2 linked regions of the Homo sapiens genome follow. The protein of the gene in region 2 purifies or fractionates together with the protein of the main gene of each other region. This does not show direct contact. Each region holds a gene or a part of one and is shown on either strand. Other genes may lie near its edges.

The links. The genes of interacting proteins can lie anywhere in the genome.
Region 1: the proteins of ZNF550 (region 2) and MEIOC purify together in Homo sapiens (affinity purification with mass spectrometry; 2 studies listed by BioGRID and IntAct, with this or other methods). This does not show direct contact.

What each region holds. Positions count from the first base shown.
Region 1 is NC_000017.11:44,666,468-44,669,967, forward strand, and holds part of MEIOC (meiosis-specific coiled-coil domain-containing protein MEIOC), read left to right. Parts: coding exon 1-1,766; intron 1,767-2,913; coding exon of another isoform or gene 2,914-2,915; coding exon 2,916-3,050; intron 3,051-3,500. UniProt on the Homo sapiens protein: Is required for meiosis completion in both male and female germ cells. Confers stability to numerous meiotic mRNAs in gonads allowing proper initiation and progression into meiosis prophase I.
Region 2 is NC_000019.10:57,542,864-57,546,363, reverse strand, and holds part of ZNF550 (zinc finger protein 550), read left to right. Parts: 3' UTR 1-3,120; coding exon of another isoform or gene 3,121-3,164; 3' UTR 3,165-3,500. UniProt on the Homo sapiens protein: May be involved in transcriptional regulation.

The sequences.
Region 1 (3,500 bases), on a different chromosome or scaffold from region 2:
TAGATACAGTCATCTCTCAGCAAGCTTTTTATAGTGATGAATCTGTGTCAGCAATGGAAAAGCAATACCTGCGTAACAGTAATCTCACACCACAACAAAAAATAGATGAACTTCATCATGGATTTACTGGTTTAGATCTTGAAGAACAATGGATGTACCCCTCACGAAGTGATCATTCTAACTGTCACAATATTCAGACAAATGATACAGCTAAGACAACATTCCAAGAATATCCACTTATCAAAAACTGTTTTACACCCCAAACTGGTCTGTCTGATATCATGAAAGAATCAGGAGTTGATATCTACCATTATGGAAGAGACAGAATATGTACTAAAGGTCTTGAAGCACCACTACAGCAAAAAAGGGCAGAGATGTTTCTTTCTCAATTTAATAGATACAATGAAAATGTAGATTATTGTAGATACCCAGAGTATGTTCATCCTAATAAGGCTAAGCTTAATAAATGTTCAAATTTTAGTGTCCAAGATAGCAAAAAATTAGCCAATGGCACACCTGAAACACCAACTGTAGAAGCAGACACCTACACAAAGTTATTTCAGGTTAAGCCAGCGAATCAGAAAAAAATGGAGGAGACAATCCCTGATCAGCAGAATTTCACATTTCCAAAAACTACGCCACATCTGACAGAGAAACAGTTTGCAAAGGAAGCAGTATTCACTGCTGATTTTGGCTTAACATCAGAATATGGACTAAAACCTCACACAGCTTGTCCCGCTAATGATTTTGCTAACGTCACAGAAAAGCAACAGTTTGCTAAACCTGATCCCCCACATTCTGAGTATTTTAAATCAGTGAATTTATTATCAAACTCAGCAACATCTTCAGGAGGTATCAATTTAAACAGACCAACTTGGATGAATGTTCAAACAAAAAATAACACTCCTATTCCTTATCGAAATCAAGGTAACTTGATGAAATTAAATAGTCATTTAAGTGCAGCTTCAAAAGGTTCTAACCATTCTTCAGATTTCCCCCAACTATCATCCACAAACTTAACCCCAAATAGCAATTTATTTCAGAAATATTGCCAAGAAAACCCTTCAGCATTTTCTAGTTTTGATTTTAGTTACAGTGGTGCAGAAAGAATCCAATCTGTCAATCACATAGAAGGACTAACAAAGCCTGGAGAAGAAAATCTCTTCAAATTGGTTACGGATAAAAAAATAAAGCAGCCAAATGGATTTTGTGATAACTATTCAGCTCAGAAGTATGGGATAATTGAAAATGTAAACAAACATAATTTTCAAGCCAAGCCCCAGAGTGGACATTATGATCCTGAGGAAGGTCCAAAGCATTTAGATGGCTTATCACAAAATACATACCAAGATCTACTGGAGTCACAGGGTCATTCTAATAGCCACAGAACGAGAGGTGGAGACAATAGCCGTGTGAATCGCACACAAGTGTCATGCTTTTCTAATAATTATATGATGGGAGATTTAAGGCATAATCAGTGTTTTCAACAACTTGGTTCAAATGGGTTTCCCCTAAGATCCACCCACCCATTTGGCCATTCAGTTGTTCCACTGTTGGATTCCTATGACTTACTTTCTTATGATGACTTAAGCCATTTGTACCCTTATTTTAATATGATGTATGGTGATAATTCTTTTTCTGGTCTCATGCCAACTTTTGGATTTCAAAGACCAATTAAAACCCGTAGTGGACCAGCCAGTGAACTTCATATTCGTCTAGAAGAGTGCTGTGAACAATGGAGAGCATTAGAAAAAGAGAGAAAAAAGGTAACACAAAGTTAACCACTTAGGAATAACAGTATGTTCCTTTTGCCTGTCTTCATTCTGTTTACCTTAGTGTAGTGTAAGAGTACTTGCCTTATTTCTTTTTGCTTTATTTGTTGTTGTTTTAAAGAGACAGAGTCTCGCTCTGTTGCCCAGGCTGGAGTACAGTGGCAGAATCATAGTTTACTGTAACCAAACTCCTGGGCTCAAGCAATCCTTCCTCCTCCTGAGTAGCTAGTACTACAGGCACATGCCACCATGCCTGGCTAATTTTAATTTTTTGTAGACATTAGGTTTCACTATGTTCCCCACGGTGGTCTCAAACCCCTGGCCTCAAGCCATCCTCCCACCTTGATGTCCCAAGTGTTGGCATTACAGATGTGAGCCACTGCACCCGGCTAACTTGCCTTATTTCTGAGCTGAATTCTATAATGTCCAGGATTTGCTGTAAGTTCATTACTGTAAGGAATTAAGTGGGTTACTTAAAAACTAAAAATGGATGGGGTTGGCCAATGGGAAGCTTAAATAAATGAAGATGAAAAATGCTTGACATTTTAAAGTTATTGTTATTCTAAGTTGACTTGCCCTGAAGTAGATTTTTTACCCCCTTAGTTGTTACAAGTTTATTTCTTTGAATTTTGTAGTGTTAACCTGTTGGTATACTCAGGTATTTTATTTGTATTAAGACGATAGCTGGGCGCGGTGGCTCACGCCTGTAATCCCAGCACTTTGGGAGGCCAAGGTGGGCAGATCACAAGGTCAGGAGTTGGAGACCAGCCTGGCCAACATGGTGAAACCCAGTCTCTACTAAAAATACAAAAAATTAGCCAGGCGTGGTGGCAGGCACCTGTAATCCCAGCTACGCGGGAGGCTGAGGCAGGAGAATCGCTTGAACCCGGGAAACGGAGGTTACAGTGAGCCGAGACTGCACCACTGCACTCCAGCCTGGGCAATAGAGTGAGACTCCATCTGAAAAAAAAAAGATAGAAAAATACTGTGGTATTGTGGTTTACATTTGTTGTCTTTTGATACCAAAACAGAATTTTCATTTAAAGTGGTAATACTCTATTTATTAGGCTTACGAAAACTATTATTCATGGTCGAATCATATTTAGAAAATTCTACATCTAAAAAGTATGTAATTTTTTACAGACTGAATTAGCCCTTGCCAAGAATTATCCTGGAAAAAAAGTATCCAGTACTAACAACACTCCAGTTCCAAGGCTGACTTCCAACCCATCTAGAGTTGATCGCTTAATTGTGGATGAACTTCGAGAACTAGCCAGAGTAAGCTGTAAAAATAGATAACAGTGGATGGATTTTTTGTTAAATTTTTTTTAAGTTTCAGGCCAGGCGTGGTGGCTCACTCCTGTAATCCCACCACTTTGGGAGGCCGAGGCGGGCAGATCACCTGAAGTCAGGAGTTCGAGACCAGCCTGGCCATTATGGTGAAACCCCGTCTCTACTAAAAATACAAAAATTAGCTGGGGGTGGTGGCATGCGCCTGTAGTCCCAGCTACTTGGGAGGCTGAGGCAGGAGAATCATTTAAACCCAGGAGGCAGAGGTTGCAGTGAGTGAAGATCACGCCACTGCACTCCAGCCTGAGTGACAGAGCGAGACTCTATCTCAATAAATAAATAAATAAAACTCTCATCAAGTTTTAGAGCTTTGAAGGGTTTTTAAATCACATTTACATCTAACTCTCTGAAATATATTTTTTTCATGTTTGGTCCTAG
Region 2 (3,500 bases):
CTTTTTTTTTTTTTTAACATACATTCACTGCCATCCTTTGTCAGAGTTAGACAGTGAGGGCAGCTCTTCAGGCATTTCTTGGAAGTTGCCTTTGATCCAGACATCTCTGGGAGGATATCCATGAGGAGAGTAATTCTTTGTGAGAAATATGAAGGCTTGTGTCATGAGATTCTTGAATTTAGTAGAAATTAGAATACTGAGAACATCTTCATGTGACACTTCTTTTTTATATCTAGGGTGAGAAGAACCCATGTACAGATGGCCACATTAAAATGTGCACCACATTAAAATGTGCAATACCTAAGACTGTTTAAGGCTTTGATTTTTATTAATAAACTCATTATTTTTTAAGAGACAGGGACTTGCTCTGTCACCCAGGCTAGAGTGCAGTGGCATGATCATAGTTCCCTGTAACCTCGAACTCCTGGGCTCAAATGGTCCTCTTGCCTCAAGTTTCTGAGTAGCTTGGGATACAGGCATACACCACTACGCCTGGCTAATGTTTGTAATTTTAGTAGAGACAAGGTTTTACCATGTTGGCTGGGCTGGTCTGGAACTCCTGGCTTCAAGTGGTCCACCTGCCTTGGCCTCCCAAAGTTCTGGGATTACAGGTGTGAGTCACTGCACCCAGCCTTAAATTTTTTTGTATAGATGAGGTCTTGCTGTGTTCCCCAGATTTGTCTCAAACTGCTAGACTCAAGTCATCATCCTGCTTAGCCTCCTAAAGTGTTGGGATTACAGGTGTGAGCCACCACACCTAGCCTAATATGGTTTCAAATGCTCAGCACTCTCACATTTTCCTGATTCCATTCTGTCTGTTTGTTGTCTTTATTTTCTCTGGCAACATAGTGATCACTTTGTACTTGCTTGGCCTTCTCAGATGAGTCCTAATTCTTTCTGGTGTTTATCAGATTCTTTAATCCTGTGTAGAGGGGTATTTTTAGGTCCCCCTCAGCATTTTTCTAGGGATTGAATTATAGCTAAAACAGGCAAAATAAAACACACAACTAAGATGAATCCATGGTAAACCCAGTAAACCCAAGAAAACAACATGGAGAGGAATCTCATTGTCTGATCTTATAAACATTTGCGTGAAGTTTTGCTACAAAATAAAGTGCCTAGCATTTTAACAGGTGAATCAGGATATACGTGGGCAGGTTTACGTGAGTTTCATAGTTAACCACCATGACCTTAGTCCCTTGGTGCTAGCACTGAATATGGTAATTAGTTTTGTTGTGTTTTGAGATGGAGTCTCACTCCGCTGCCTAGGCTGGAGTGCAGGAGTGCGATCTTGGCTCATTGCAACCTCTGCCTCCCGGGTTCAAGCGATTCTCCTGCCTCAGCCTCCCAAGAAGCTGGGATTACAGGCATGTACTACCATGCCCAGCTAATTTTTGTATTTTTAGTAGAGACAGGGTTTTGCCATGTTGCCCAGGCTGGTCTCGAACTCCTGACCTCAGGTGATCCACCCACCTCAGCCTGCCAAAAAGCTGGGATTACAGGTGTGAGCCACTGTACTTAGCCTGAATCTGGTAATTTGAAATTCCTTTTGTGAGATTTTCTTTTAGTTTTCAAGCTACATGAGATAATGTTAGGTTAAAACGTGTGAAAAATAGAAAATTATCATTTTCTCACTTTGAGCTTTCCTCACAACCTTTTAAAGCACTGCATATATATTCATGTTTTCATAGTGGGCATGTACCTTTTACTGTGGTCCTTTTGCACATATTATAAATAGAATTCTTGGTGAGTTAAGAGTTCTCTGTTTTTGTTTTTTCAGGACAGAGTGCACAGTTTCCTCTCCTGTGGGAAGGAGAGTTGACTCTTGAGGACCCCCACCCTCCTGCATCCTCTCTCTGGAAGGCTGCATGTATTGTAGCTGTGGCTGTACTTGTACCTAAGGCCCTGGGTTCAAGAGAGTTGGAGAAACCCCTCTAGAAACATATTGGCTGTCATCAAAGGGTTCTTTCCAGGCCTGAGGACCTAGGCCCCAGTTTGTCCCAAAGCAGGAGTGTTTTCCATGGGATAAAGGACACCCTAGGTTTTTCTTAGCTTCCAGCTCTTTCCATACAGTCTTCACTGAAGTGTTTGGTACAAGGATCTACTATGAACTTGCTGCTGTGATAGGCAAGAATCTCATGAGACACCTGTCATTTAGCTCCATGGCCACTCACTGTTGTGGTCATACTTAGAAGAGTGGGATGCAGTGGATGGCTGGGCTATGGGTCCTGCCCTTGAGCAGGGAAGGAACTTACTGTCTAATATAGGAAAAACACATGAGAACAGGTGCAATATATTGACTTAAACTTGTTTAGCACCCGTTTTTAAGTCAGTAGAAGTTTTGAACTTACAGTAAAAGTTGTGAACTTCTGTATGTTTTCCACAGTTTATGATTGAGGTAAAACATGTTTTTTGTTTTGTTTTTGAGACAGAGTTTCACTCTTGTTGCCCAGGCTGGAGTGCAGTGGCGCCATCTCAGCTCACTGCAACTTCTGCCTCCCGAGTTCAAGGGATTCTCCTGCCTCAGCCTCCCGAGTAGCTGGGATTACAGGCGCCCACCACCATGCCCGGCTAGTTTTTTTGTATTTTTAGTAGAGACGGGGTTTCACCATGTTGGCCAGGCTGGTCTTGAACTCTTGACCTCATGTAGTCCACCCGCCTCTGCCTCCCAAAGTGCTGCGATTACAGGCGTGAGCCACCGTGCCCGGCAGAGGTAAAACGTTTTCATGTTCATGTTTTTGTAACTTTGTTACATTTAATGAACAAATTAGATAAAAAGCACTATGCTCTTATGCTGCTTAATCTGTGAGAAATGATTGTGGGGGTGGGACTAGTTATGACCATTCACAGTTGGTGCACTTCAATCAGTAAATGTCACAGAGGAAATGTGGACGGTAAATTAACTCGGCAAGTCGGTCATGCAAAGACGAATTAGAAATCTTAATATTTGTAAGCAGACAAAAAATGTGTCTGGAAGGATCCTCACCCAGTTAAATGGTATTTGCTCCTTGGGTGTAGAGGGAGGGAAGGGATGGGGTAGAGGGGAATGTCAGAGTTCACTTTAACTTCATGCACATGTGGAAATGTTTGAAATGTTCACAGTAAATTTTATAATTTCAGAAAAACTGCTTAAGGTTGAAAAGAGAAATTTAAGAAATTGCTGACGGAATAAAAACATAATAGAACTACAACACCGAAGGAAATGAAAGAAGCAAGAAGGAAAGCACCAGAAGTGATTTGGAAGAGAAATCCTAAAATGAATGTGAACAACAGAGTGATCAGAAGAGTGTAGGGAATTAATAGTTTCTTTAAACAAGCCATCTCACAATGGAAGCCTGTGTGTCTTGAAATTGCTGTGGTTATTATTCACTCTGCCCTTTGAAGAACTGCAGAAATTCATAGGGCAATGTTAAGTGTTTGTGTCTCCAAAAAAGATGTTGGAGTCGTTACCCTCAGAACCTCAGGTAATCATGTTAGTTAATCCATTAGGTTAGTTCCTA